3 separate regions of the Homo sapiens genome follow, and all the other regions are linked to region 2. Evidence: fine-mapped expression QTL. A gene starts in region 2. Each other region holds a variant in brackets. All regions are shown on one strand. Distances are from middle to middle.

Evidence for each region.
Region 1: its variant is fine-mapped to the expression of ARGLU1-DT in iPS cells (PhLiPS, PIP 0.95).
Region 3: its variant is fine-mapped to the expression of ARGLU1-DT in anterior cingulate cortex (GTEx, PIP above 0.99).

The regions. Positions count from the first base shown.
Region 1 is chr13:105,917,092-105,928,102 of GRCh38, reverse strand. No RefSeq gene overlaps it. Among named protein-coding and RNA genes, the nearest start is that of LINC00343, 220 kb to the right of the region's middle. RefSeq lists an enhancer at 8,116-9,315. The variant A/G (reference allele first, on the strand shown) is at 5,748.
Region 2 is chr13:106,611,529-106,622,539 of GRCh38, reverse strand. ARGLU1-DT (ARGLU1 divergent transcript) reads right to left here and starts at 4,730. Exons shown (of 4, transcript NR_051977.1): 1 at 4,507-4,730.
Region 3 is chr13:106,668,553-106,679,563 of GRCh38, reverse strand. It overlaps LINC00443 (long intergenic non-protein coding RNA 443), which reads right to left. Exons shown (of 3, transcript NR_047026.1): 2 at 10,636-10,918; 3 at 7,384-8,048. Among named protein-coding and RNA genes, the nearest start is that of LINC00443, 20 kb to the right of the region's middle. The variant ATCTC/C (reference allele first, on the strand shown) is at 5,942.

The DNA of each region.
Region 1 (11,011 bases), 690 kb after region 2:
AAATATACAGAATAATTAAACATTTTAGTACCCATGTTGTTTCTGTCCATTTAATAGCTAAAGAAAAAAGAATGAATCTCATAGTTAGCAAATAACCAATTTAGACATTTTAAAAACTAAAAAGAGAGTATGCATTTTCATCTCCATGCAAAGATTTATGCTAATTATCGATTACTGAGTTAAGACACTTCTCTCAAATATGAAAAAGGGGTACCCGAAGTCAGGCTTATTTTCATTGCTTAGGCCTAACTTCCAAGGTTTCCACTAGAAACACAAAAACAAAAATTTCCTTTTGTGTTCCTTAAAAATTATGGCAATTTAGATTGAGGAAGTTTAGGATTTACTTTCATTGTTTCTGTTATTTGATGCTGTGTGAGAATGAATAATTGGCTTATAATTATATTTTAGAAAACAATCAACAATTACATACATTATTAAGTTTTTTATTATAATCGGCACAGATTCCATAAAAATCAATAAAGAAATACAATTTACTACAAAATTAGTTTTGCTTTAGGCCTGATGGATGAATGGAAAACCCTGTCTCATTGTGAAATTACTGTCTCACACGAAATGCTCTTTTCTTTCTCCAATTGAAGTAAGCATCAGCTGAGGATCTGCAGAAACTGAAACCAGTGCTCAGGATTTGTACAGAAACAGAAATTATTACTGCAAAGTATATTTTTGATTATTAATTTATGCTTTCATCTTTGACTATCATGAGGTTAAAAAAACGTAATTGTATATTCCATTGATCTAAACAAAGGTGTTTAAACCTTGGACTTACTGAAATTTTGGAATAGATAATTATTTGTTGGGGAGTTCTGGGCTGTACATCATAGGATGTGTAGCAGGATCCCTGGTCTCTACCCAGTAGACGCCAGTAGCTCCCCTCCCCCAAGTTGGCATCTCCAGACATTGCCAAATATCTCATAGAAAGTGGCTGCACAATCACCCTTGGTTGAGAACCACTGCTCTAGATAGAAGAAAATGCATTTAAATAAATACTAGCCATCCAGCTTTATTTCTAAAGATTAAAACCTCAAAGCTATAATATAAACAGAAATTTCATCACAATTGGTCAAAAACACCACCATGTCAAGACTCCCTTGCCTGAGGATTCAGTTGAGTCTGCTCAGGCCTCCCTTTCCAGGCCCAGAGCTTTTCTGTCTCCACATTAGAAAGCTGTCAGTACACAAGCAGTCTGGATAGAGCCAAAGCTTGTTGGCCCAGATCTTATTAATTCCTGAGCTGTTCAAATTTAAAAGCTCCTTTCTGACACAAAAGTTCTTTGAAAACCTGTGCTCCCTGAATTTCCACTGACACTTCTGGGTGTCACTGAGTTATTTTGTTTGAAGGAACTCCCATGTTAACTTAATCTTCTTATTTGTTTCACAGGCATTCTGTCCCCTCTTACCTGGGAGGTTGTGTGGTACAAATTATTGTGTCACTGTCCTGCCAAAAGCATCACCTAAAAGGGATTTTCCTTGCAAACCAATATCAAAATGTCGACAAGATTATCACAATTTGAGAGGTGGCACCCTCACTGCCTCAGGGGCCTTAGCATTAAATCTCTTTGCTTTTTGAGTGAAACTAGCATGGAGTGGAGTTGAGAGATATATTAATAATTAATATCCTTATAAAGAGTATTTTCACATGATGTTTCCTGCCAGGTTATGAGTATGAAGGTGGATGCAAAGCAAACATTGACATCTCAGCCTTAGACACATTTAGTCTGGGCAGCTTTATATGCTGATGAGGAAACAACACATTGAGTAATTCAGAAATAGTTCAGAAAAAAAAGATGCATTCAGAAAAAAAATACCAGCAGAAACGATGGTATCAGTCCAGAAATATCCCATTCAAAACATTGAAATAACATAATCATTTCTTAAGGGAAAATGAAATTCACTTTTCAAGTTTAGGTGAAGGAAATATAGGAAAGTAAGTTATCACTTACTCCCTGGAGGAATTTAAGAACAATACCTGAAAAACTTTTAGAATTTGACATTATGCCCAAAAAGGAAATTTTTAAATTCAAAAAAAAAAAAAAAAAAGAAAAGAAAAGAGTGGGTTCTGGAATGTTTACTACATGAGAAGACCATGGAAAACAGAAAATAAAGAACAGCTCCCTGGTGAAAAATGGTCTGCAAAGAACAAGGCAGTCTATGTAAGGAGATTAATAAAAAGACTAAAAAAGCATGTAAAAAAGCTATGGAAGATCCCAAAAGATGTGTCAGAGTTATTTAAAAAGGTATTACAGAGGTCTAGAGTGCATGATAGAACAGGAAAGCAAGACACACCCACAAAATCCCCTTCCAAGACCTAATCGCTCAAGCACTATTCATGTCATATCAATCCTCTTAAGTATGTAATAGTCACTGCTCTGCAAAAGCCTCCAGATGTAGAGAATGAGATTAAACTGACTTTACAATGCCAAGAATAGAACCAAATTGCATAAGCACCACTGCAACCTTTACAACATAGTAAAGACAAAGAGATCCCCAATAATGCCTCATGAATCATGCTTTAGTGGTTACCTTTGAAATGTACAAATACATTGTACTTTCTATTAGATGCAAGAGGGCCACACATGCACGTATAGGGGTGTGTGTGTGTGTGTGTGTGTGTGTATGTGTGTGTGTGTGAAGGATGGAGATAGTTAAGCAACAGTAAGTTGTAGATGGTACAACAAACCCAGATAAAACTGAAGGTTTGTTGAGTTGCTAAGAAAACAGCAAAGAATCATACTATTGATTAGAACTCAATTTCAAGAGAAGCAATTGTAGTTTTCCTTCTAAATGAGAAAGAAAGAGTTTTTATAACTAAGAGAAATAATTATTGTATATCAATAATTTTAATACCACACTGAAAAACAGCCAGGAATAGGGTATCACCAATAACTCCCCAGAACTCTTTCCTTGTAGCCACAGCACTGGTGCCCAAGACAGTCGCAGCCTCCACTATGATGAAATAGAAAGGGCTCTGCCACTTACTACACGTCCAGATGGAGGCACTGGTAACATGGCCTTCCTTGCTACTTGTGCTACTAGACATAAACTGGATCTCCATCCAAGCTCTGACAGTCACTGATGGAATCAATGTCATTGGGGCATGGAAAACAGCACAGTTCATGGTGGGTCATCCTCCTGACACCTTTTAAATGGGCTGAGCTTAGTGATAGGAGACACTCGTAAGGGAGAGTGAACACAAACTTACGCAGCACTGAATAACAATGGCAAATGTAGGAATGCAATTTTCCCAGTGTATTATTTTAGGGATAAGGGCAGAATTACTTACAATTCCTACTTTAAAAAAAACTGTGTCTGGAAAGATTAAACAAGAAGTCATCCTTTGATGCCTCGTCTGGGGAACACTCAGTGAACACTGCAGTAGTAAATTGGCATTCTCAGAGGAGCACTGTAGAAAACAGTCTTTAGTGGATCCTTCTGCTTTAAAAGAAAAAAGTATACGTAAAATAAATTGGAAAAATTACCAAGATATACCTTCGTGTATGTGTGTGTGTGTGTGTGTGTGTGTGTGTGTGTGTTTTCGACCATGCCTGGCCTGGGATTTTGATTTGAAGCTACAGGCCAGAATTCCCGGGTCAGTCAAATACAGGCATACCTCACTGTATTGTGCTTCACGTTATTACACTTCACATAAGTTGCATGTTTTAGAAATTAATGGTTTGTGGCAATAGTGTGGCAAGCAAGTCTATCTGTGCCATTTTTTCCAACAGCATGTGCTCACTTCATGTCTGTGTGTCACCTGTTGGTGATTCTCGTGATGTTTCAAACTTTTTCATTATTATATCTGGCATGTTGATCTTTCATCAGATCTTAGCTAGATCTTCTGGATAACTTGCTGCAGCTTCTACATCAGCACTTGCTGCTTTGCCTTACACTTGTGTTATGGAGATGGCTTCTTTCCTTAAGCCTCATGAGCCGATGGAGAAACAGACAGTTGGCGGAGCAGTCAGAACCCACACAACATTTATCAATTAAGTTTGCAGTCTTCATGTGTTTTACATGACTCTTGAGCATGGCCTTTTAGGTGGAATGACAGGCAGTGCCTACGTTTGTAACTATGAACACCCTCCGTGGTTGGCCCTCCTCCCAGTAGACCCGTCAAGTCCTGCTCTCCTTTCTCATGGTGCTCACTGAAACTTGGAGTGCTGTCCTCTGTCGGGGCATGCGCCAGTGTAACTACCTGCATAAGGTCATTCTCACTCTCCTGGGGCCAAAGCAAGAGAACATTCTTGACTTTTGGGCACCATTTACCAGGGTTGACTTCCTCCTTTTTGAAATGTGTCCTTTTCTTTATGTCCATAACATCCATCTCCTTGACTTTTCTCCTCACTCTTTGAAATTGCCTTCTTCATTTCATTTGCTGCCTCATTTTCCACTGCTTATCTTTAAAATATCCATGTTTCCTGGGAGACCTCTTGGCTTTCTTCTCTCCTTACTGTGTGCATGTTCCCTGGGTGAGCCTCATTCACACCCAGGCTTCCATTGTCAATGCGTGCAATGACTTCTTATTTTGTATCTTGATCGTTTCTTCATTTCAGAGCCCCATGGCCACTTCTGGCTTGGTACAACTACAACCGTGATCATCCTCTTCATTTCCACATCTGCAGCTCTTTTTCCAGCTCTCACGTTTCCTGCAGAAACCTCAGTTACCCTGGACTTCTTTTCTTCTTTTCTTTCATCACACTACTGTCTCCAAGTCCTCTTGATCTTACCCTTTTGGTATTACTTGAATTCATCAATTTCTCTCCATGTCTACTTTCGTTTTCTTAAATCTTCATCATTTCTTCTATGGATGACAGCAATATTCCCTTCTTAGGACTTCTAAAACTGCCCGCCCCCCCCCCGCCCCCCTTTCCCCCCTAATTAGAAAGGAGTCCCAGAGAGATAGCCTGAGACAAAACTGGACATAATCTGAAATGATTTCCATTACAAGTAAAATATGTTTGTCTTCTCTTCTATCTTAACATTTCATTTGCATTGCACATGCCTCTCTAGGCTGTACATGCTAGCCATGTTAGATACTGGATTTTAAACTATGCATCATTACATAAACCTGAATATTCTGTGAAGAGCTTCAGAATGATCCCATGGTTTTGCTTATTCTCACTCCAAATGTTTAACAGAAACATAGCCCGATTCATCTCCCTGTCCCAAATCACTCTTCCCACCATTTATTTCTATTTCTGCTAAAGGGATTTTCTAAAATACAAATCTGATCATGATTGCATTCTTCAGTTTCTTAGGATGAGTGCTGACTCCTTCCTGGCAGGTACCATACTCTTCACAGCCCAGTGACCCCACTGTTACCCCATACTCCTTATTCCCTTCAGCCATAGTGAAGAGTTGTGCTTCCTCTGTCTCACACAGTTTTTGCCTCATGCCTGTGTTCTCCCAGTGTGAAAGGTCTTCCACCCATTTTGTAAAATTCTTCCAATTTCTGTTCATCATTCAGCATTATCTAAAGTATCCCCACAGAGGGAAACTCAATATTATTTAATCATGACATTTTTGCATTTTAATTGTTTGACTATAGTTGTGTGCCCTCATTTTATTACAAGCTTATTGAGGGCTAAGCGAGGTTACATTTTTTCAGGTTTTCTATTGAAGTTTCTGTCATATAGTGGATACTCCGTGCAGATAGTCCTTGAATGAAGATGGGTTCCCTCCCAGTAAACCCGTCATTAGTTGAAGATATTGTAAGTTAAAAATAAATTT[A/G]ATACACCTAAACTACTGAACATCATAGCTTAGCCCAGCCTTCTTCAAACGTGCTAAGGACACTTAGCCTGCAGTTGAACAAAATCGTCTCACACAAAGCCAATTTCTGTATATATTTTCAGAAGAAGAAATGGAGGGAAGAGGGAAGGGAGAGAAAAATGGAAAGAGGGAAAGAGGGAGGGAGGGAGAAAGCCTCGTCTCCTGCCTGTCTTCTTTTTCAGCCCCAGTGGTCTTGCCTGTAGAGGCAGGGCGTGTCTGCCCTTGAACTTCTTATCTAACCAATTTACAGAATGCTTTATTGAACACTAATCTTAAGCCAGACATCCTGCTATATGATGGATAAAGGTAAATAAGGTAGTTCCTGATAACAAGCAGTTCCACCAGTCCCTTCCAGTGTGCTATTAGGGAAGTCAATAAACTCCTCTGTGTCTCAGTTCAATTCAAAGAGAGGACTCTGGCCGGGCATTGTGGTTCACGCCTGTAATCCCAGCACTTTGGGAGGCCAAGGTGGGCAGATCACCTGAGATCAGGAGTTTCAGACCAGCCTGGCCAACCTGGTGAAACCTTGTCTGTACTAAAAATACAAAAAAATTAGACAGGCATGGGGGCACATGCCTGTAATCCCAGCAACTTGGGAGGCTGAGGCAGGTGAATCACTTGAACCCAGGAGGTGGAGGTTGCAGTGAGCCGAGATTGCACCAGTGCACTCTAGTCTGGGCAACAAGAGTGAAATTCTGTCTCAAAAAAAGAAAAAGAAAAAAAGAGGACTCCAAAAAGAGGATAACAGTAATACTTTTCCAATACATTTGCCATAGGGATTAAGCTCATGTAAAACTACTTAATAATATAATGTGTCTGACAGAAGTGACCCCTCCCCAGTCTCTCTCTCAGACTCCTCTGTCTCTGTTCTTCATCCCAGACCTGTGGTACTATGCCGAGTGGTGGACTAAGACGTCGGGGGTGATATGGAAGGTAAGTCCATGTCCACTTTGTCCTGGCTCAAGGTGCATCTCAAAAATCAGGCTCATCTGGATACGAATCACCCTCTGCCACTCATTAATTGTGAGTGGGGTTTAGGACAACTTACTTTACCTCTCTGAGTGTAAGCTTATTTGTCTTTAATGTGGAGAAATTAAATGTATATTTGTCCTTGTGTTTTTCAGAAAATGGAATAAGTTAGTACTTGCATTAACAACAGTACAGAGATATCATATGCACTAGCTACCCTTCTTACCACCTGCCTAACTTGCCTCCAGGATTCTTGCCTCACTTTCCTCACCATTTTTTAGAAAAGCCTGTATCTTCTTCATTCATTCTCCTATTGTACCATCCCTACTCCATGGCCTTCTCCTGGGTCACTGTTTTCCATGCTTAGTGTTATTACCCTCTGAATTTACTGATGTCTCTAAATCATGTTATAAGGGCCAGAATCAAGAAGAAGTGGTGTAAAGAGAATTAACTTTTATCAATGATCAGTATTACCTGTGGTTCATTTAGTGCTTGGTAGATGCCATCTATGTTGTAATTACTGTAACATGTTTACACTTAGGATTCTGGATCTAGAGCTACCTTCTCCCAAGGAGCAGGATCTCAGCTTTCCCTTTTCTTTTGGAGATAATGTAAGCAGCTGGTAGAAGAGCTTTGAGTTGAGGGGTATAATAGGGGGATTATGAGGCATTGTGTTGGGGCAGAGGACAGAGGGAGCAACTCTGCAGAGTCAGGGAGGCTCCAAAACGGAAGTGACCTTTTGCCCTGGGTTTCTATTACAACTCACTGGAAAATGGTTTACAATGCTGATTTGCACAAATAATACCAAAGGCAAAGGAAGAAACGAAGAAATCCCAGGCTGACTCAGATATAGATCACTCGTGTCTATGAGGAAATCTTGACAGCTTGTGTCAAAAGTTCACTCTTCGTGACTCAAATGGGTGCAATACCAGAAAAAGAGAACCTGATTAGATCAGTGGTTCCCAGACCCCTAGAATGGGAGGACAACTTTGTAATGACCTTTTCTCTCAGATTTTTTCCTAAAAAAGAAAGTGTACTTTTAGAAAAGAATCAATTAAATGATTAAGAACAAAAGTTACTAGGAATTCAGTATCAATTGCATATGAATTTCCATTTTGTTCAGTGAAAATTTGCATTTGAAAATAGTAATTTTAAATGTGAAAATGGTAATAAATATGCCAAAGGTGGTTACGACTTTCAATCTATATGGATTCTTGGGCTTCCTGCAGTCACTTTAAAGTCTCCTGAAGTCCCTTTGCTGTACTTTAGGGTCCAGTGATCTGGGTTTTAATTAGAAGCACTCTTTCAAAGGATTTCTTAAAAAAATTAACAAGTGAAAAGAATTGTACAATTTTAATTTAATTAAACATTTGTTTATTTCATAGATAGTCTCCTTATCCGCATTGTTTTTTAAAATCCCTCCCACCATGTTTTATCCACATTGTTTTTTAACAATCCACAAAAAACAGCAACGATCAATTAGCTGATAACATATTACAACCACATAGAGGCCTAATTTGCTCCTGTTTTAAAAGCATATTAGTGCTAGTTGTGCTCATTAATGGTTACGGTTCTATTAATCAGGAACAAATCCATGTCATCTGAATTTTCTTGCCTCTTGCAACAAGGTAAGCACAGATGGTAGATGACACGGGAGGTGAGTCGCTCTGCAGGTCGGCGCTGCCCGAGTGATCTGTTAGGTGTGTGGATGCACAGACCACACGGTGTATTTCCGGAATGTCTGAAAATGTGGGCCACATGTGACCAACAAGATAATTATGAAACCTGACTGCTGGATATGCTGATGCAGCCAAAAAACATCAAGGACTGTGAGTGAGTTTGGAGGTGGGAGCAGAGAAAATTTCTGCAATGTGTAAAAATGGACCGCTCTCAGAGAAAAGGAGCATTTAAATTCTGCCCAGTTTACGGGTTTCCAGTTCCTGTCCTTTCTCCTGCTCATATCTGCATCTTTCTGATCTCCCGGGAAATCAGCCGCTGCTCTGCCCGGTCAAGCCCCTCCTTCCGGAAGAAGGGCTGAGGCAGGAATGACTCATTGCCAGGGAGTGCCTTATAGAACCGGGTGAAAAGGCAGTGTGACAATATGACTGTGAATTTCTTATCAGTGTAGGCTCACCAGTGATGAGATTAAATGGAAAGAACGTATCCTGCTGTCATCAAGGCCAGTATCATAATCAACTTTTATGATTTATCAGCATTGTAACCTGGGGCTATTACTGCAAGTTTTGAGCCTCCATTTTCTCATCTCTAAAGCAGAGTCACAGGGACCAGGTGCAATGGCTCACACCTGTAATCCCAGCACACTGGGGGGGCCAAGGTGGGAGGATCACCTGAGCCCAGGAGTTCAAGATCAGCCTGGGCAACATAGTGAGGCCTTGTCTCTATGGAAAAAAAAAATAGTAACAATAAAAATGAAAAAATAAAGTAAAATAGAGTCATTGCCTCATTACAGGATTGGATGTGGACTAAATACGATCATATGTGTGAAGTTACAGGAAAAGCCTTGTGGAGCAGGATTAGAAAGAACAGAATGGGATCTAATTGAGATGAAATGAAGACCTCCTAACAATTTCTTATGAAGCTTCCTAAATCTCTTGCATGTGACAGTGTAAGTCTCTTTTCATTCCATCTACCCTTAAGCTTCCCCAGTGGTGAAGAACTGTAGAGCAAAGAGCAGCTTTCGAGGGGAACACTGCCTCGGCCCTCACCTTCGTCCAGGGCTTAACCACTGGACACAACTCAGAATCTTGCATTTATTCTTAATTTAAAGCCTTATTCCAGCCTGAGATGCAGTTCCCTTAGCTTCCTGCTGATCTCTCCTTTAAAATAGTCTCTTTCTCAAATCCAAAGTACACTGAGGTGTGGGGGAGATAACAAAAAGTGAGCTTCATTGACAGGCTCAAGAGGGTCACGTGCATTAAGAGACTGTACAATTCACAGGCCAAGCACGAAGGCCACAGACAGCCTTGAACGTGGGAGTTAAAGTGAGGGTTCTGGGGCCACAATGCTCAGATTGCGTTTAAGCTCTACCTCCTATTAGCTGTGTGACCTTAGCTCTTGATCAAGACAACTTTATCTTTATATATCAGCTTCCTCATCTGAGAAGGATAATTATACCATTAATATCACTGGTTTCCCATGACAATTCAATGAAATGATAGATAAAAAGGGCTTAGACCAGACCTCAATTAATAGAAGGTGTTAATTTTAGCAATAGCTGTATGGCTTAAGAGTTCCTGTCATCCAAGTAACAGGATCAGAGGACACTGTGGCATTAGCATAGCAACATTGGTGGGGACAGCAGGGATGTCGGATGGCGTCTGATTGTCAGGGTTAGTTCGTAGGGTCAAACTCTGCAGCTGCTTTAGAAGAGTGCTGTCGTGTGGGAGATTCGCTCTGTGCATTGGTAGACTATAAGTACAATCCTAAGAAAGTGATCCCACAGGTGACTGAACAGAAAAAATCATAGACCAACTTAAACTTTTCATAGACCATGGTGTATTAATCAGTTTGCATCTAGACCCAAGGGAGAGTAGATGGGGTAAGTTAACAGTTAGGATAGGGTGCAAATGGGGTGGAGGAGTCGTACTCCTGAATCCCAGGATGTGCAGTGTTTCTACACGCACAGGCTCTCTCTCAATGCCACATCCATCTTTCCTGCAGATGGAGTAATTGAGGTTTGAGCAAGATGTCCCGGGTTAATAGCACTCATTTGGTCTCCTGGAGAGACACAGGGATAAGTAAGCCTGGAAGATGGCTGTGGATTGTCCCCAGCTAGCTGAACAGCCCTGGGATTTATTGCATTGCTGGGGCAGAAGACTCTGGGACCAGAGTGGGTGTCACCAGTCGGCGGCTAAGTCAAGGTCTCAGGCATACCGAGTGCTCGTGTATATTTAGTGTGTCCTGAGAAAGGACTGAATGTTTCTTGTATATTTGCTGTATCATGGCTCGTCCATATTTAGAGTAACTTGGATACTTCCCACCCTGATGGCTTATGTTTATTTAGTGTCTTGAGAACACTGGGTGTCTCTTGATCCTTCCCTTCTTTTCTATGTATGTTTAATACCCATTATTCCATTCACTAACGACCTTAACAAGCTCATGGGTTGCATCCATCCCACTTGTCTTCTTGTTTCTATAGTAAGTTATTAAATAATGTAAAGTGTGTATTGGAGTTTACCTATTGGGCGGCGGCCTTGAGGAACTATTTAGCATGCATATTTCCAGTCTGGATAAAC
Region 2 (11,011 bases):
CAAAGTCTCTCCTCCTTTGCAAATCAAGTTTCTGTGTTCAGTGGAAACCTTTTCCAAAGCATTCATCTCTGTCAGCATACCCAGTGCATGCTCTGTCATGAACAGCTCCCAGCATTAAGTGGAGCAATTCCGTCTACCATCTGGCTTTGTGAGCAAAAAGCTTTTTTTATATAAAAATATGAAACTAAGCTACCCCCGTCTAGACTTACAATCTTTCCAAGGACATTGTCCATCTCCCCATTCATTCCAAATGGATGAAATTTTAGATGGAACAGTAATAAGAGGTGAAAGGTTTGGAATCTTATTTAATATGTTTACTTGAATTGTTTCTAAAGAACATAGGAGTTGGGATCACTTTTTTAAAAGTACCACTGTCCCTCAGAAGCTACTCAATATTTGCTTTTACTATGTGACAATTGAGCACATTTTCAAAAATACAGTAGGAAACACTGTGTAACAGAAGCAACATGGATCTTATTTAGCTGTTGCAGATGTTGGTGGTTAAAACTACCCGACTTTCACTGGTTGATCTGGAATTAGATCTCCTATCCTTTGGTAACAGTTCTAACCACATAAGTTTATACTAACACTCTGGATAAAATCACAGTTGGAAAAAAATAAACCTAAAAAGTCACTAAAACAAGAATGAGTCTGAGCTCTCTTTCATTGTTCTTTTAACTCAACCTATTTGCTGCATGTGCAAGGTTGAGTTTGTGTTTCAGTCATGGAGTTGGTTTTGTTCTCCATTTTTCTTCAGCACCCACCCAGGACAAAGTACGCTGTATGCCGGCAAGTGTGGTCAAGACCATATAACCTGAGTTCTTCCTGCTCTTGCTGCTGTGAAAATTTTAAACTGATTTTTTAACACTTAAACTGCATGAAAACACTTTCTTTTAAAAAACAGTATTGTTTTTGTTTTAAGAAAATTAAATGGAAATCCATTAGGGGAGCAAGGAATATTCTCATCTCAACCGGGTAAAAACCCACAGAAACTGAGGCCACCGAGATGCCAACTTATCAGTGCAGAAATAAGCTTAGAATCTGAAGGATAAGATGTAATTCTGCATAAAACTAAGCTTCAGTACAAGAATATCCTGTTTCAGACCTAGTTGCACTGATCATCAATCAGTGTTGCCTACATGATCATGGTAAACCCAAAGTATGAGCAATACAACACGTTTGAGTTGTCTGGCTTAATGTCCTTCGGCCAGAAAGCTGCGGGTTCTGACCTCCAGCTCCAGATCCTCCAGCTAGAAGAGCAGCCCTGGAGAATAAGCAAATGCACGCATGTTGGGGCCAGATTGCTAGGGTGGAAGCCGCACCCCTTGCTTACTTGTTAAGTGACTTTGAGCAAGTTACCTAACTTCTCTTCTGTCTCAGTTTATCAGCACAGTGAATGTTACAATAGCACCTACCTCATAATGTCATAGGGAGGATTTAATGAGTTAACATTTTACATATTAAAAAAAAAAAAAAAAAGAATGAAGGCCTTTCTTTCAGCCCCAGATCTGTACTACTGCCATTTGGGGAAGAAGAATTTTCCTAGGACTCATGAAATACAAATTTTAAAAAGCTGTGTCCAACAAGAGCTGGAGTTACAGTATCACACACCATTTCCACCTCCTGAAGTGCTCCGTGCTCTCTGTCACACTTCTCATTCTGCTCTTTAACATCCCAGTATTATGAAAATCCACCCAGTTCCTTACAAAACTACCTCTCACCCTCCTTCCAGCAGCTCAGAGTTAAACTTGCAGAGGTTTAACAGTGGAAAGGAGAAAGAGCTGACAATTCGTTTATTTTTATGATGCCTTCCTATCAATGTGAACATTTGATTTTAGCCCAAGGCCACATGAGTCAGGGCAAAATTTTTAGCAGCAGAAAGGTCTTCCCAGGCCTCTGCATATCACAGCAGCTCACCTCATCCCTCTTAAGACCGTTTCCAGTCTCAGAAATACAAGCTAAACCCTAATATTGTACTATATTTTTTTTAGTACAGCATGTTGATTTCACTCAAAAGGGCAATCACCGTGACTAATATCAATCTTACAGTATCAACTTCATTTACATCACACCTCAGGTATAATGAGAAATGATTTTATTTTTCATTAACTATATTTTTATGTATAATAATAGAAAATACCTAAAAGGCTTGACTGTACACATTATGAAATTCTATTGATACACTATAGTTGTAATTTCTTATGTATGTAATAATCAAATAATAAAGAATAAGTATCTCAAGATTGGGGACTATCTGTTGTGGTTAAAATAAAAGTTTAACCTCCTTCAAATAATAAGTAGATGTCTTCTCTCATTTTATATCTGTTCAGCCCCTATGAGAGCGCGTGTAGCTGTAGCTCTTGGAACCAACAAGCAAATGGGTGATTTGCCTTACTTACCACTAGGGGGGGTGAAAGCTAAGTTAGTGACCCGGGCTGCAGGAGTCCAAGGAAGAGAGAGAAGTGGGGGAAAGGCAATGAACATAACGCCAAATAAAGGGAAAAAGAAGAGGAGCGGCAATGCGGGAAGGAAGGGGGAGGAGATTTGCTGGACTCAGGGATGTTTAGGGGTCCGTCATCAATTTCTTCAGATCCCTCATTAGATGGCCCCATAAGTAATGGCAGCTTGGTGGGAGCCTGCCAAGGGCAAGGGACCTTCTGCTTCCTCTGTCATCTCCTCACCTCTGCAGTGAGTGCAGTGAAAAGTCCCAGGTTCCTGTTGAGAACTGGGATTTTTGAGGACTTATCGCCTTTGACCTGTAACCTACTGATAAAGTGCTTGGTTTCATTTTGTTTTCTTGCTTAAAATCTCCTATAATCTCAGTGAGATAAAATGGCGGGGGGGAGGGGATACTGGGCTAGGAAGAGGGAGTGTTGTGTGGGTGCAAATCAAGCCGCAGCGCCCAGCCTCAGTAGAAATCAGCATTGCACCTCCATGCTTAAAAACAATATATCTTCTTCCAAAAGTCATGTCACAGTCCACGTTTCCCAGAAATAGTGGCAAAAGTCCCTGTTGAAATGGATTGTTCATTGTCTGGTTTGAGACACTGACAAGAATAAACCTGCTGAGGCCAGCTGGGCTTTTGTCACTTTGGTTAAAAGCAACATTATTCCAGTGGGAAGGGATCCCGGGAGGAGGAAGGAAGGAGACCAGGAGGAAGGCCACTGGGGCAGAAGGACTGGCCTCCTGGAAGAGTCAGCCACCCAAATTACCAAGTTCAAGGGGCCATCTGATCCACACCAGGGGCCCAGAACTTTTCTCCATGGGAGTCTTTTGTGCCAAGCGAGTCTGAACTCTCCCCTGAAGACAATGGGAAACCTCTGACAATTTTTAATCAGGCAACTGATATTATTATAAAACAGCCATGTCTTCATGCTATCTTACCATTCTAATTCCTAGCATAGCATCTATCCATTCATTCGCTTGTTTTAAATGCCTGTCTTCCGGCTAAAATGTAAGTTCTGTGAGAGCAGGAACTTTGACTGTATTGTTCATCACAGATGCCTAGAAAATAACCTAGGTGGGACACTGCAAACGTTCCATAAATATTTTTCGATGAATAAAGATTCATATTTTAGAAAGCTTCCTCTGGTAGCTTTGTAAGAGCTGTGGATAATGGACTGAGGTAGGGGGGCGGGGTGGAAAGAGAGAGCAGAATTAGACACCAAGGCAAAAAGTAGGGAACATGCACGAATTTAACGCATGTCCACTTCCAAACAGGTTGTGATATTGGTGCTGGGAACTGAAGTACAGAAGCCTGGATCCACAACGTACGAGCCATGGGGACTTCCATACAAGGCATGCACAGGTATCGTACAGATATAGGACTTGGGGGTCGAATCGGGAAGTTGGGGAGGTGATGCAAACAGGTGGGAAGTCCAAAGAGGACTGGTACAAACAGAAGGATAAACCAGTGGGTGGGAATCATGGAGATCCGAGGACAGGGCACAGCATCTGTAGTAGGAAGTAGATGCAACACTCCCCGCAGCCCCATCCCCCCAAAGAAAGGCAGACCCAAGAAGAAAAAGCCTGAGAATAGAAACCTTGGAAGAATAAATGTATAAAAGGGGGCAGACAGATTAAAAGGAGTGAAAAAGGGGCGGTTGTGGCTGCTGTGATGCCCAGGCAGACGCTGTCATCCTCTCCACAGCTGAGAGTGTTGGTGGGTTGGGGGGTGGTTGTCAGGGCTCCCCACTGGGTCCCTTCCTGGAAACGGCTCCCAGCTGAAGACAGCCACCCTGCCCAAGTTCATAGCACCATCCCAGGGGCAGCTGCATCCAATGACTGGTGCACAAAGGTGGGATGCAGAGGCCTGGCCCCTTGCCTCATGGTGATACAGCTCTGGGAGGCCCTCCCAGGTCAGACTCCATGCAAGATTGACCGATTCCTCTGCTGCAACTGCAACAAAGCTCAACATCTCCTTCTGCCCAGTGTTACCGCGTTTACTCCTTTATAGGTATAAGCACTAAGATCACTCCCCAAAAAACTTCTCATGGAAATTTTTACCTGCAAGTCTATTTCCCAGAACTCAACTCAATACAGTTGGTGCCAAGAGTGATCCAAGAAGATGGACTCTGAAGTGGAACTGCAGAGCTGGCTCATCCTCCTGCTGGCTGGCAGTGAAGCCCCGGCCCTGGCTTGCCGGAGAAGTGCAAGTGTCAGAACTTTCACTGGTGATGACCTGGGGTGGGAAAGAGGTGGGAGAGAATACCCTGGTAGATGGCAATCTCCCAGGCTTTTGGGAGTTAGAGAAATTACCAGTCCTGAGAACAATGGACTCTAATGGCTCTGGCTGAGTCACTGGAGGCATTAGAGAAAGACAAAGTGAGGCTCAGGGCTGTGAATCATCATTGAAAGGAAAGTGTGAAAGGGAGAAAGCCTCACTGGAGGCATCGGAAGAGACTCATCTCCTGTAGCAGGAGGACTGAAAAATCTAAGGATAAGGCCCAGGAATTAATTATAAGAATAGCAGCACTTCAAAAAAATTTGAATTCTTAGCTCTGGTTAGTCTGGTTATGGCTATGACAATGTCAGGGGCCTATTAGGGATGAGAGAGACAACAGAATTAATGCTCTCAAAACCTCAACTCTTGAGGTTGGGCACAGTGGCTCACTCCTGTAATCCCAGCACTTTGGAAGGCCCAGGCAGGCAGATCACCTGAGGTCAGGAGTTCGAGACCAGCCTGGCCAACATGTGAAACCTGGCCTCTACTAAAAATACAAAAAATTAGCTAAGCGTGGCAGTGTGTGGCTGTAGTTCCAGCTACTCAGGAGGCTGAGGCTGAGGAGAATCGCTTGAACCTGGGAGGTGGAGGTTGCAGTGAGCCAAGATCACACCACTGCACTCCTGCCTGGGTGACAGAGTGAGACTCTATCTCAAAACAAAACAAAACCTCAACACTCCATTCAGAGCCCTCCGGGCCTACAGAGGTGGCCCTGACCTCCCTGTGAGAGGCTGTGCTCTGCCCTTGCTTGAACATGGTATAGGAATCTCTGCATTGCAAGACAACACAGTGCTCCTCAGGACCCACCCCCACCTCCTGCCTTGACCAGACCCATCACTAGAGTCAAGTGAGACAGCATGTGGAGGGGAAATGCAGAGCCTGCTGAGCAAAGGAAGGAACCATGTGCCTAAAGGCGGCAGGCCAACGTGCAATGGCCAAAGCCAGAGACTCTTCATGGGACTGAATGAGGGGGATGAATCAAAGCAGGGGAAGCATGAAGTTGGAAAATGATGAGTTTATTTATATGGGCACAGTCTACTGTAATAGATGATTTGCCACCCTGGCAAGGACTCTGGGAGATGTTTTCATCACACTGCTAGGATGACTCCTGGAACTTTGGAGAAAATTACAGCCCACATTAAGTAAAGATGAAATGCCACAAGTGTGTGATAGATGATGGAAGAAGAAATAAAACAGATCTTAATCCTTGAGTCAGTTTATCTGACCCAGAATCCACTAATTCAAAGGGAGGTCAGGTTCTCAGGAGCACCCATGGCAAGGGAACACAGTTATGGTTCCAATGGTTCTTTGCCAAATGTGCCTGTGGTCACTTGTTTAAACAACTATACAGTGGAAAAGCAGAATATGCAAACATTTTGAGAAATGCTGGACACAGGGCCTGAGCTGACATTCACACCCAGAGAACTCGGGATTCCTTAGGGCCCTCTATTGGAGTAGGGTGCTTGTGGGCCAGGAAATAAATGGAGTTTCAGCCCTGATCTGGGTTCCAATGGTCCATTTGACTGAAATGCAAGTCAAAACTACAATGAGATATAATTCCACCCTGGTTAAAATGGTTTTTATCCAAAAAATTGGCAATAACAAATGCTGGAGAGGATGTAGAGAAAAGGGGACCCTCTCATACACTTGGTGGGAAAGTAAATTAATACAACCACATTTAAAATACATTTAAAATGTACAAATACATTTAAAAATAACTACAATGGTATAATTGGGTTGTTTGTAACACAAAGGATAAATGCTTGAGGATATGGATACCCTACTTTTCATGATGTGATTATTTCATATTGCATGTCTGTATCAAACTATCTCATGTACCCCATAAATATATATACCTACTATGTACCCATAAAAATTTTTTTAAAAGAAGTGTGTAGAAGCTTTTTGAGATTTGCTTTAATATAATCTAGTTAGAGAAGCAAAGAGGGAGAGTTGTGGTGAATATAAGTGAAAATGAATTGGCCATGATAATTATGAAGTTGAGTAACGGGTACAAGGAATTTCACTTATATTTTCTCTACCTTGTATATATTGGAAATTTTTCATAATAAAAAGTTAAAAAGCAGAAAGGAAGTGGATATTGATAAATACTGTTTAGATGGCAAATAGAAAACCAGGAAGCCAAGGCTTACCTTTCCCTCATCCCACCATCTTCAGCACCAGGAGTATAGCAATAAACGAAACAGGTAGAAAATTTTGGCCTTATGAAGATTATGTTCAAGTGAAGAGAGACAGACAATAAACAAAATAATTAGAACTGGGTAGGTATTTTGTGTACCTGTGTGTAAATTTGCTTCTTCTTCTTTCCTCCCTTCAGGGTACAAGATGTAACCTTTGGAGCATATAACTGGTTCAGTGATTGATAAAGTGCAGAAAATATTATATGGAAGTACTAGGGTCACAGATTCCATATACAAGCTCTTCCTGCACCATGCTGTTAGGTGTCCCCCAATCTGACTATAAAGCAGGAATATAGTTTCCTCCTCTTCAAATCTTGCATGACTTAATGCAGGGAAAGTATCACACAAAGAGAACCGAAACCCAACTATACATTCCACTGGATTGGTTTTTACTGGAGGCTCTGCAACACGCCAGATGGTTAAGCAGCTCCATACCTACAGCCTCTGTCATTCGAGGTGGCTGGGAGGACCAGAGTCTCCCAAGCTATTAATCAAAAGCTCCATTATGTGTCATTGGCTCTGATTGGGTCATGTCTAGCTATTGTCACCAGATGAATACAGTGCACTGACTGATTTAGGACTAGATCTCATGCTCCCTCACTGAACTGAGGGCAGATTCTTGCTCACGGTCATGAACTAATCATGTATGAATGGCAGGACTTGTTTTGACAGTAGAGTTGACAGCAGTTGATGATGAATTTTAAAGAAATAATAGAGGAATGATTTTCAATAGGGGTGTCACCACTCAGAAGGGAGTTTTGAAAATTTATGGGATTATTTCTGATTGTCAAATCATTAAAGGGGAATGACTGGAATTGAGTAGTGAGGAGCCAGAGATGCCAGATATCATGCCAATGTGCAAAGGTGAAATAACCCTTTGTCCTACACAACTTTTGTAAATCTCGTCCAAAATTAGGACTGAATGTATGGATGGTCTACAACCTGGTAGAGTTGCAAAGAAATGTGTTTTCTATGACACTCCATACCACTCTGACCCACATCATAACAAAAAATTCTTTTTATCTATATTTACAAATAATAAGGTTGCCCTTATTTATAAGATTACCATACTTCCTCATTTTTGTCACTTTAATGGCCTGAGTCTGTAACCTATTGTCTTAGTCTGCTCAAATTGCTATTAAAAAAAATCACAGACTGGGTGACTTAAACAAAAGAAATGTATTTCCCACAGTTGTTGAGGCTGGAAGTCCAAGATCAAGGTGCCAGTAAATTAGGTTTTATTCTAAGACCTCTTTTCTTGGCTTGTAGGAGCAGCCGTTTCACTGAGTGCTCATATGATCTCTTGCTTGTGTGCACCTGGGTTGGGAGAGGAGGGAGAGCTCTCTAGTCTCTCTAAGCCTCATGGATCTTGACCATTTTTAACCCCTGTTCCCTCCTTATGGTCCCCAACTCCAAATACGGTCACATTGGCTGTCAGGGCTTCAGCACAGGAATTTAGGTCCAAACAAAACATTCAGTCTGTAACATTTGTCTTGACGTGCTATTCATGTGTATTAGTCCGTTTCCATGCAGCTGATAAAGACACACCCGAGACTGGGTAATTTATAAAGAAAAAGAGGTTTAATAGACTCACAGTTCTACGTGGCTGGGGAGGCCTCACAATCATGGTGGAAAGTGAAAGGCACGTCTTACATGGTGGTGGCAAGAGAGAATGAGAGCCAAGTGAAAGGGGAAACCGCTTATAAAATCATCAGATCTCATGAGACTTATTCACTACCAAGACAACAGTGTGGGGAAAACTGCCCCCATGATTCAATTATCTCCCAATTATGAGAGCTACAATTCCAGATGAGATTTGGGTGGAGACACAGACAAACCATATCACCATGTATTCAGTTAAGGTTATTTCCCTCATCTTCTTATTTTATACCCTTGTGGAGAAAAAATCCACAGACTAAGAAACGCCTTCAAGATTTTCCTCAGGGTCATTGGAGAAAGAAGGGCTTCAGGCATTCAAGTAGGGCAGATGGAACATCCTGAGGCTGAGCAGAGAAGGAAAGAGTGGAGTTATCATCAAAACTTCACACATTTGAGGGGGGAAACACTGTTTAAAAGGGCATTGAGGATATACATTTTTTAATATCATAGCATTTGTCAAGGAAGACATGTAGGTTCTATAAACAAATCACAGTGTTCATCCAGGGAACTAAAGCATCAAGGATCTTATTCTTAGTTAAGATTTTTAACTTAGAATAAATGCCATGAAGATTGTTTGGCTGTAGAAGGGATGATTTTTTAAAATAAATATTGGAATAACTCTGGTTATCCTAAAACTAGTTTTAACCTAACCTTGGCTTTTAATCCAGGGTCTACTTGGCTCTCTGCTCTTTCTCTGCCCTGAACTTTCTGTTGAGAATGATTTCTGATCTTACGCCTCTCATATCCAAATAATTCTCTAAGAGTAGATGCAAGCATCTCACTTCTTCATTGTGGATTATATTAGTTATCTGTTGCTGAGTAACAAATTATCTTAAAGGATTTGGTGGTTTAAAACAACAAAATTTACTATCTCAGTTTCTGTAGGTCAGGAATTCAGGTACAGCTCAGCTGGTTTCTCTGGCTCAGGGGCTCTGATAAAAGGTGCAATCAACTGGGGATGGATCCATGTCTAAGCTCACACATGTGGCTGTTGGCAGGATTCTGTTTCTTGCAGACTTTGGGACTGAAGGCCTCAGATCCTCCCTGGCAATGTGCCCGAGGTTGCACAGAGTTTGTTTCAACATAGGCCTCTCTATCTGGCAGCTTCCCTTATCAGAATAGCAAGGAGAGCCAGAGAGAAAACAGGGTGTGTGGGGGGAGTAGAGAGAGAGGATGGAAGTCACAGCTTTTATAATGCAATCAAGGAAGGGACATGCCATCACTTTTGCTGTACCCTCTTCATCAGAAGCAAGTTAGGTCTAACCCACTCTCAAAGGCAGGGAATGGCACAAAGGGATAACTGGGAGCCATTTCAGAAACTACTAACCTCATGTTCCAAGCATTTACGTATTAAAACGTATTATCCTATTACATGTTGCATACCTTTTATTTCTCCATTTTATTATGGCTAAGGCATTTTATTCATATTTTTACCAGGTGTGTAAGATATAATGTCAACAAATTTCATTTTGGAGGGAAAGAAAGGAGCAAAAATATTTGTTTTAAAAAGGGGGATGTTGAATCTGGCAGAGTTGTAGAATACTATCCTAGATGATGGATAGTTCTAATAGGATAATGTATTTGAGAGAGAGAGAGATTGACAAAATGAGGTAGAGACAGGAAAGAGAAGTCCTTGAGAAGCCAGAAGAGGTGGGAACCTGAACACATTAGAGGGGTTAGATTTTGATAAAAACAGAAAAATACGTATTAAAGAAACTCAGAGGGAGTAGGATAATTATTTTCAAATATCTGAAAGGCCATCTACATTAGACCGATTCTCCAGAGGGACAGAACTAATATAATAGATGAATATATAAAGGAGAGTTTGTTAAGGAGTATTGACTCACACAAACACAAGTTGAAGTCCCACAATAGGCAAGCTGAGGAGCAAGAAAGCCAGTCCAACTCCCAAAATCCCAAAAGTAGGGAAGCCGACGGTGCAGCCTTCAGTCTGTGGCTGAAGGCCCGAGAGCCCCTGGCAAACCACTGGTGTAAGTCCAAGAGTCCAAAAGCTGAAGAACTTGGGTTCTGATGTTCGAGGACAGGAAGCATCGAACATGAGAGAAAGATGGAGGCCAGAAGACTCAGCAAGTCATCTTCTCCCACCTTCTGCCTGCTTTATTCTAGCTGCACTGGCAGTTGATTAGATGGTGCCTACCAACATTGAGGGTGGGTCTCCCTCTCCCAGTCCACTGACTCCAATGTTAATCTCCTTTGGCGACACCCTCACAGACACACCTAGAACAATATTTTGCATCCTTCAATCCAATCAAGTTGACACTTAATATTAACCATCACATCATCCTGTGAAAGAAAATTATATTTGCTCAATGTTGCCCCAGTTGATAGAATTTAGACTAATGAATGGAAATTAGAAGGCATAATGGTACAAGAATAGGAAAGAAAACATGTTTACCCCTCAGAATCT
Region 3 (11,011 bases), 57 kb before region 2:
CCAGCAGGGCTCCAGGCCTAGGGAAATGTGGCTGGGGGCTGCACGGACAGGCTACACTGAGGATATAGGCGTATCATAAAAGCATAAGGGAATGACTTGTAGTGTTGTCCAACATCAGCGGCAACCCTCAACATGCCTTCACTGCCTCCCACCTCCTCCCATCCACATCCAAGCCATCGAGAGCCTGTCTTCTCTAAATGGTAAACCAGCTGCATTGTACTCCAGGGTGCAAGTGTCCAAGGCACGATGCAATCATCCTACTTTTTTCCTACGTTCTTTTGCAAATTACACTCCAGGTATGATTTATTTCTGGTCCATTTCCTGTGACTCAGTTACACAGGATGCAAAATTATGATAATAATAATGCTTGTCTCCAGATAATGAATAAGGGGTTCACATTTCTCATCGCAGGGATGTTATACAAATGTGCAGTATCATTACAGCTAAAATCCATGACTAAAGAAATTAAATTTCCTGGAATGTTTTATATCTAACAAGAATGTTTGTAATCCTCCATATTCACTGCTAAATGAGGTAGACTAGAAAAAAAGAATATATTTTAAAAGGAAGGAATGGGCTCAATGGGAAAAATTAACAAATGGGAAAATTGCAGCCCTGCGTTTTATACTTTATGGACAAAAGGGGGCTTGGTAAACATGCAACAGGAAACCCTGTTTGATTTCTGCAAGGAAAATTTAACTAGCAACAGACTCATGCAGAATCTTCAAAGGAGCAGTTTCTCTACTTGTTTACCTTTTGATATGCAGCTTAAAAGAATGCTATGCTTCACTTTAGAAAGAAATGATATCATGAATACTTTACTCAGCTCTGCAAACAACTAAATACATAGCTAGATATATAGCAAATGAAAGGTTTTGCCATTTAAAAAAAAAGCTGGAAAGAAAAGATATACAAAATGTTGGGGTTGGGAGGGTGGGAGGGTGACATTTTCCAAATTTAGTTCCCTTCATTGTTTCATAAACACATGAGACTAAAATTCAGGCAATTTTTTGTATGTCAATCAAATGTAATTTGTCAACAGAACCTATTGGCTTCCATCTCCCTTTTTGTTATGAGGTACCACCTTCTGACTTTGTGAAATCAGAACAAACAGAAAATCAGTGTCTAAAAATCCCATACACTTGTGGAATCGGGCACATCAATTTAGAGGTATTTCCTCCACACAGCTAGTCAGTGGGGTTGCTCAGGCTATCAGCCCAACCATCCTGCCTCATCTTCATCAGAGCCCAGAGCCGAATACAAATTCCCCGTTGAGCCTTTACCTGTAGAACTGCTAGAACCACAACATCCCAGCCCATTGCTGTACTTGCTGACAGATGAAGAGGTGATGGTGAGGTAGAGTGCAGCGGACAGAGTTTGCTCAAAACTACACCTTACACCATCAGCTCCCTTACTTGTCACAATCACCTCTCACCTTTCTAGCTGGGAAATGGCTTCCCCAGAGCAGTTCCTGGTCATGAAGCCATGCTCCCAGTCCATCTGCCTTTATCTTCGCTGGACCTCATGCAGGTGAAGTGCTGTTTGCTGTTTGTTTGTACCAGACCCTACACATGAAGAGGCTCATTGCCTGACCAGCCAGTGCTGAAGGGGGCTGTGCATACCTCAACTTCCCTGGCCACATAAATCATGCAGGATCATGAGGTTAAGCACCTCCACCTCCCATGACCTCACACTCTTCCCTCTCTGTTACCTCCAAAAGTAGTTCCTGGGTCCTCGGACAGATGTCTCCTTCCTAAGATCTGCCAACATGGATAGCACCTAGCTTATTCTTTACAACTCCCATTGCATTGACCTTTACAGACAGATCAGGAGCTTCCTAAGTGAGTCTCAATGTCTGGAACACTCTGTGATGCACTTACTTAATTGCAATAAAGCTTTCACCTCTATAATCAAATCAAAACAAGGTTTGCTCAGGACTTACCTTGGAAGGATAGGCTGGGGAAGCTAAAGAAAAGAGGTGAAACAATATATTTTAACACATTCAACTTGAAGTAATATCCAATTCATTACATTTTGTTTGTTTGTTTTTGTTTTTGTTTTTTTGGGGACAGAGTCTCCCTCTGTCACCCAGGCTGAAGTGCAGTGGTGTGATCTCGGCTCACTGCAAGCTCCACCTCCTGGGTTCAAGCAATTCTCCTGCGTCAGCTTCCCAAGTAGCTGGGATTACAGGTGTGCACCACCATGCCCAGCTAATTTTTGTGTTTTTAGTAGAGACGGGGTTTCACCATGTTGGCCAGGCTGGTCTTGAACTCCTGACCTCAGGTGATCCGCCTGCCTCAGCCTCCCAAAGTGCCGGGATTACAGGCGTGAGCCACTGTGCCCAGCCCCAGTTCATTACATTTTGTATTGTATTATTATAATATATTTCAAACCTATAGAAAAGGTAATGTAACACCAAAATGTAACACCCAAATGTAGAGGTTAAACAAATATTATCATTTTGCAGTATTTGCTTCAGATCTTTTATTTTTAAGAGATTAAACTAAACATTATAAATTAAAGCAATGACCTTCCTTTCTATTATTTATTTCTCTCTCCCCAGAGGCATCTTATAATCTGAAAGTGGTGTGTAACATTCTCAGACTTGTTTTGGTACTTCACCTGCATAAGAAACTCTTTTTATGGAATGAGTGCAGTATACACATCATGGAAAAGTAATTTAGTTCTGTCTTAATTCTTCACTAATTTCCACTAAAATAAATATAGAACAGATTCAGAAAACTGATGTGTATGAAGTCTATACGCTATTGCTTCTGTGTTACAAATTTACACTACTGTTTTATGCTGTTTAGTTGCTTTGTAGCTTGCCTTTTACACTTAATTACATTTTTTAGTTTGATCCATGCTGATCTAGTTCTACATATGCTACATACTATTTATTGTATTATGGGATTAAATCGGGGTTTTTTTGGCCATTACACTAAAAAGTTATGTTTAAGTTGCTTCTACTTTTTACTACTATATACGATGCTGCAATGATGATCATTTTGCATAATCTTCTTGTGCATTTGTGTAAAAGTTTCTCTAGAACAGACACCGATATGGTTTGGCTCTGTGTCCCCACCCAAATCTCATCTTGTAGCTCCCATAATTCCCACGTGTGGTGGGAGGGAACCGGTGGGAGGTGATTGGATTATGGGGGTGGGTCTTTCCTGTGCTGTTCTTGTGATAGTGAATAAGCCTCATGAGATCTGACAGTATTATAAGGGGGAGTTTCTCTGCACAAGTTCTCTTTGCCTGCCGCCATCCACCTAAGATGTGACTTGCTCCTTCTTGCCTTCTGCCATGATTGTGAGGCCTCCCCAGCCACGTGGAACTGTGAGTCCAATTAAACCTCTTTATTTTGGAAATTGCAAAATTTCCTGGGTATGTCTTTATCAGCACTGTAAAAATGGATTAATACAGACACCTAGAAGTGAAGTTACTGAATCAAAGGTATAGGTAACTTCAACTTTATTCAATATTATTTAGTTTCTCTTTAAAGAGGTGGTACTACTTTGCAATTTTACCAGGGATGTATATATATTCCTGTTTGCCTACCTCCTCATCTGCCAACAGAATAAATGTGAAGCTATTATTTTATTTTGCATCTCTCTAAAGACTAGTATGGTTGAACAGTTCTTGGCTTTTGGTTCCTTCTTTTATACTATTTGCCATTTTCTCCCGTTGGGTATTTAAATTTTTCTTATTCATTTTTAAGAGTTCTTTGTTTATTCTAAATACAAATCTTTGCTCTATAAATTGCAAATCTATTTTACCACTCTGGTTATCTAATTAATATTAAGAAAAACCAGTGCTTAGTATAGAGTTGCAATATGAAAAACAGATAACTTATAAAAATGTAAAAATATTTCTTCTTTGGGTAAAGAATTTTTTTCTTTTCAAAGCTGAGCATAAGGCTACTAATGTTTATCTGAAACATTGTATTGTATATACTTCTGAATATTTTCAAAAGTCTTTAATGTTCACATCTTGGCATCTTACTACTATTTACAAATACTGCTAAAATTGATTTATACAATAAAAAGCAGATTCCAAGTCTGTTAAGTCTGAGTTTGAAATATCATAGAATGTCAGTGGGATATTCTTCAGCAACTACTTATCTCAGAAATCATTTTATAAAATAAATTCTGTCCTTGGTGACATAATTTTTTCTATGCCTATAGTACCATGGAGAGCTTCATGAGAGAGAAATGTATATCTGTGTACATATGTGTATATTTGTATATGTCCAGAGAGTATCTTTATTTTAATCTTACACTCCAATTGATAAATTAAACTTTGAGGAAACTCTTTTTATGGAATGAGTGCAGTGTACACATCATGGAAAAGTAATTTAGTTCTGTCTTAATTCTCCACTAATTTCCACTAAAATAAATATAGAACAGATTCAGAAAACTGATGCTGAGGACAGACTTAGTGAATCTGTTGAGCCTGTGGCTGGAAGTCTAAAATATTATTTTGAATTAACCCATTAACTCATTAGAGATAATTCTATCCAGATTTTAGTCTGTATTTATTCAACAGATTTATTGTCTGTTTTTCTTTCTCCGAAATGGGACCCATTACATCTCTTTAAAGCAGTGTCTTCCATATATTTTACCATTTTTATTTTTCAGAGTACCTCATATACTAATTATTGAGTTATGTATCGTGTAGTCCTAGTTACAAAGCCCAGATTTACTGTATGTCCATTTTAGTGAGCAAGTTTGTACATATGCACACATATACATTGTGTCAAAATGGCCTTTTAAAAAGATGGCGATTATACTTTCAGAAGTACCACACTCCTTTACACACTACTATAGATTTATAAGGATTTCCAACCTGAAATTGAATTTCCCCTTATGACTGGATGTACTACAACCAGTCACAGGCCACAAAGCACCCTACCTCATCTCTTAGTTCATTTGCAGCAGCAGAAGGGCTAGATGGTCTTTACTTTTCAAAGCAACAGTAACAAAATGAGGAACTGAGCCTCCGTTTTATACTTGGACAATCTTGGGTTGGGATCTTGCCTGTGTAACTCAGTTGGGATTTTCATAGAACCACTTAGTAATTGTTAATCCATGTGATAAGCTTAGAGTACCGATTTTAGAAGATTGTTTTGGGATGAACTGTACTGGCTAAAAGCAACATAGACTAAGTACTGATAGGGCTGTCAATCACTTCTCCCCCAAACCTCCATCAATGTGATGGCCAGGAACTTGTGTGGGCCACAGACTCAAACCTGAACTTCTGCCGAAGATATCAAGAAGGAGAAGCCCTCTATTTACTGAAGTCTCTGACTGTAATAACTTCCACAGCCACCGTAGCACCACAAAAGGAAGGCTTTTCCAGGAATTAAACCAACACAAGGAAAGCCCAGACAGAGAGGGAAGGATGGGCTCATGATGTTTGAACCTCTGATCTGTCTATGCCTTGAGCCAGCCACACTGCAGGATGCTGTTGCTCCAGCAATTAAATGTCCTATTTTTGTTTAGGCTTGGGTTTCTGTCCTCTTTTGGGTTTCTGACGTCCACAATGCCATCCTAACGTAACTTACATTGACCAGTTCTCATCATCTCCACTAGAAGCCAGGCATTAATCAGCTCCTACCAACTCCACCGGATGCCAGATGAGTCCTGTGAATTCTAAATGGGGAGATGATTATCTGCCAAAACACAGGACTTTATAACATCTGCAGTCAAATTTTGAAGTCTTCACAGCCTCACATGTGCTACCAATTCCAAAATTTTTCCTAAGCATGACCAGTAAGCTCACTCTATACACTGTAATATATCTCAAGGAATCAGATCTTCCAATGTGTAACAATAGGTAACATTTTATAGAGCCAGATAGTCTACAAAGGTTTTTCTATGCTTTACCTGATCCTGCATTTCCCGTTTCTGTGTGTGAACCGATGCGTGGGTAGACAGTT[ATCTC/C]TCTCCTTTCAATATGAGGAAACTGAAGCTCAAAGAGGCCAAGAACACAAAGCAATGGTTCTTGAGTCATCTGACCACCTGCATTTTTTATTATATTGGTTTGAATCCTAAGAAATTGCCATTTTTTAGGTCAAATCATTAAGTTCATATGATCTTCCCTCCACAGTGTTGTCTATCTCAGGAACATTTTAGTAATAAGTGACACACACTGACACAAACTAACCTAAACAAAAATAGAACATTTAATTGCTGGAGCAACAGCATCCTGCAGTGTGGCTGGCTCAAGGCATAGACAGATCAGAGGTTCAAACATCATGAGCCCATCCTTCCCTCTTTGTCTGGGCTTTCCTTGTGTTGGTTTAATTCCTGGACAAGCCTTCCTTTTGTGGTGCTACAGTGGCTGCTGGAAGATATCAATTCACTCAGTTATTACAGTCAGAGACTTCAGTAAATAGAGGGCTTCTCCTTCTTGATATCTTCGGCAGAAGTTCAGGTTTGAGTCTGTGACCCACACAAGTCCCTGGCCATCACATTGATGGAGGCTTGGGGGACATGCGATTGACAGCCCTATCAGTAATAGGAGGGGAAGTTTCCAAAATTAAAGGAGAGTTCTGTCTCCAGAACAAAGGTGAACAAGAGCTGCTCGGGCAAAAATAGCACGTGGTCTGCTGCACATGAAACACCCAAATCTATAGAAAATCTAATACTCTCCCCAATGCTACAGTTACACTTGATTACAGAGAAAATAAACGCAGCATAATAAACAATAAGACAGAGGGAAGTTAATGAGGTAAAGACCAAGTTAATGATAAACCCAACAATGAACAATCTGGTTAACTACACATTAGAATTGATTTCCTTCTAAAGTTTAAGAAACTTGTTCCCTTAATATTGATGATATTTTGTCCACAAAGTTTTAAAAGTTCAAGTTCATCTCTCAATTTCTTACAATGACATTGGAAAATTAAATAATATTCATCCACTGAACCAAAGCCCATTGTGTAACTCAGGTTTATATTTGCATATTTCTGCTGCCTCCATTGCCCCAAATTTCAGTCAAGCAGGAAACAGAACAGATTTCCGGTCAGAATCAAGCAAACTACATACATCTACCCTACAAATTATATTGGCAAAAATAAATAAGAAGGGACTTATTGTGGCCATCTGTAAGATGACTTCAATAACTAGTAAGGCAGAGAGTTGAATTTTTACAATGTGCTGTTGGGAACCATATGAAATCCTTTATAAACCAAAATTTATATTTAGACTTGGAAGAGCAAAAATGAGTCCAGACTTCTTTGATAACCTCGCTTGTCAATGAATAAAGGGTTGACCCTTTACCCCAACATATATATTATTTTTAAAAATAAGTCTTCTAAATATGCACACCATTTGCTAATATATCTTAAGGCACAATATACAGATAAGGAATCATTGCTAATAATAGTGAATGTCTTTTATTACGTATGCATTATATAATATTATATATGGGATGAGAAGTAAAGAAAAGGGATGGAGGAAAGGAGAGATTGGGAGAGATTTTTCCTTGTTTGAATTTTGGAGGATCAACCTCTTGGTCTTGAATAGGTGATCATTATTACTAGTATTGTTGTTTTTTCTTTAATAATATGACTGATGAAGGGCTCCGTAATAGAAAAATGGCTTACTTGGCAGCTTGCTTGTGTTTGCATTATTACTATTAGCTTCATTCATTGGTTTCTTTTCAGAAAACTTTAAATTCCTTTTACGGAGCGTTAATTTAAAATAGATAATATCTGCAGAACCCAGCACACTCGAGCTGTAATGAACAGCAACCTTCTGGAAAGGAGCCAGGCTGCATGGGCCTCGCCTGCCCCACACCTCAGGCACTGCGCACGGAAACCATGCGCCATCCAGTGCAAGCAAAGGGAGCGCATGGTGTCAACAGATATGCTTCACATTTCGTATGCTCGATTTCTCTCATTTTTCAGTGATCTCATGCTTTACCCCACACAACAATAAGCCCTCCGGAGCATCGCTTCAAGCAGACACAGTCCACTGCAGACCACTCGACATGAAGCACAGAAGACTTCGGGACAGGGCTGGCCTGAAGCTTCGTGGTCCCTGTAGAAGAAAATTATGCTCTCACTGTGTAAAACAAAACAGTACGATGGTGACACAGTAGGAAAGCAAAAGAGAAAATTTCAATACTAGAAAGCTTACTGATTTGTTTCAGATTGAATTATTAATACTCATATGATACACCTAGAAAAAATAGTATCCAAGAGTACTAGTCCTATGCCTTAACAACTATCTTTTAAAAATAATTTTAGAAGTATTTTTGCAGAATATTTTAACTGAATTTGCTATTTTCATTCCAAAATTTGTCGTTTCTTTGATCAATGACTAATTACGTAGAGCAAAGTTCTTCATTTAAATTCTATGATATCTGATCTTGCTAAAAATACACCAGAAAAAAAATGCTGGGCATCTTTCATTTTTTATTTTTCATAAACCTTTCAAAGTATTAATATAACTTCTGATGAGTATTCTTTCAGAAAGAAAGAATTATATAGTGCAGACCATATAATTACTAAAATGAAAGATGAAAATTACTAGTAATAGTAATGAAATAGTAAGCGTTGTATTTGTGTGGAAATTAGTAATTTCATCTTACTAAGTAATTTCAACTGTATTATGATAAAACTTTAACATCTCCATGTTTCATGGAGGACAAAATGAAGCAATTTCCATTAATGAATCAAGATACATTTCCCATTTTAAAACACAAATGGAGTAAACTGTTGGTAATTAGACTCAAAACTATTCAATCAATTCCTATTTTTGTTAAATAATAACACATTTAGGGAGAGTTAAGAATCTAACTGCTTCTATTCTTTTTACCATGGCTCCTGAAATCTCAAAAGCATTTCAAAACGTCTACTTTACCTCCCTAAAGATGGGTATAACTCACTGTCTTATGAACAGAAGTATTTTTTTGAAATTTCTATCTAATGTCCTTGAGAAATAGAATAGCCACAAATTATTACAGCTTCTAGCATTTCAAGACACTCTGCAGAATAACTGCAAAAATATCAAGATTCAGAAAAAATTATGAATGACTCAGTTTGATTTTCAGCTGATTCAAAATCTTGATAGTATTTAAGTTTACAGATTATTTAATTAGCATTAGGCAAAAAAAAAGAGACATTACCTCGCCATGTTTCTGTTTTTCCTACTAAAAGATACTATGTAAAAACAGCATAGTAAGCACTGAAGAGTTTTAAATACATTTGCAAAACCTTTTTATTTCAACTATGTTGAATTTTAAGAAAAATGTATAGTTTGTATAGTTTGAATATCTGCAATAATAGTGTTTTCTGTGCAAAAAGAACAAATGTAGAGTGCAGCTGACAGATTAAGTTCTATTTCAGGGTTCAGTTACAAGTAAAGAAACAGAGGAAAAGGAAAGAAAGGTAAAATTACAGAATGATCGTGTGTTCCAAAGAAATCCATCATCCAGCGTTTTCTGCAGGATATCAGTTGATAGGATCAAAAGATAAAAGCCTCATTTGACAATTAAATCTCCTAAATAGGAAAACATTTTAAGTGCCAGGCAGAATCCAGTTTATAAATGCTCAGATGTGCTCCAGATTCTGTCCTCAGGACATCTAAGTTATGTGTTCTTCTAAGGGGAATCTTAAAAGGAATAGTTATTGAAATGATATTATACTGAATTTTTCCAGACTTTCATTATACACACTAGATTCTCCTGTGGATTATGTTCCCACACTCAACTGACTACTTAATGCTGGTCCTACAGTTTTCTTGTCCTGACATCTAAGTTGCCTTAATTGTAAAATGGCTTTCGTTTGTTTTTTTTTGTCAAATTCAAATGTGAATAGTCTTCCAGTATTTGCCTGCCTTTTACTAAATAATAGAGACCCTGCTTGGCAAAAGGACTGTTAATTATATTGTAAGAAAAATAGCTGAAGAACTTGCAAATAGAAATGAAAAGACTTAAGGAGAATGTTATAGTTATGTTGAAATACTTGAAGGATTGTCAAATGAAAGAGACACATATTTATCTTGTTAACTCCAGAGAGGTTGACTGTGACTAATGGATGACAATTTTTAAAAGTAGTTTTTAGTCCAAAAGAAGGGAAAAGACTTGAATGGTAATGGTAGCCCAGGAGTAGATGGGGTGGTCTGGTAAAAAATTAAGCAGAGATTGGTTATTTATGGAAGAAAAATAATGCAGAAATCTCTCAACTGTGAAGAAGTTAATGAATCTAGATAGTTGCTAAGGAAACTTTCAACTCCAAGAGTCTTTGATTCAGTGGTTTTCTTCCAGTCCCTCGTCCCATTTACCTCCGCCTGATGCCATCTTCCATCATACCGTTATCAGATAAACTGTCTTGTAGAGTACTTTTTCTTCCTGTTTATTGACCCTCAAGTTGTCTTCATTTCAGACTCTGATACTCTCCAAACTACATGATCACAAGCAAATTTCTTAACTGTTGAGATCTGCAATATCCTATCTACTCATGTAAAGCATTTAGCACAACTCCTGGCACCTAGCAATTACTAATTGTTTGCCATTATTAGCCATTATTATTTGTACCCCGACTCTCAAATCAGCCTCTCCAATGAGGCATCCACCCACTAATCAGACCCAGATTTGGTCGATCACTTAAGAAATTTCTCTCACTCTCAGGCATGCAGTTATTTTCAGCTGCTTTGAATTTGCTTGGAGACATTTGGAGAGAGTGGTGAAATTGCACTACAGTAGAAGAATCAGGATCCTCGGATGAGAATTGCTCCCTTTAAATGCAGAGGTCTACTGATGTAGCTCAGTCTAGAACTCTTCAGAGATACAAAATGCCCACTTGGAAAAAGAGAACATTGGGTCTTCTGTGGATGGCCCAGGCTTCGGCTATGTTTATGGCTTTCAGTCAGATCAAAACATGGCACAAACACTGGGAGATTCCTCCCTGGAAAATAAAAGGAACATTAAACCCAGGTCGAAGACATTCAACGAAATAACCAACTCGTACTCCTCAAAATTGTCAGGGACATGAAGGGCA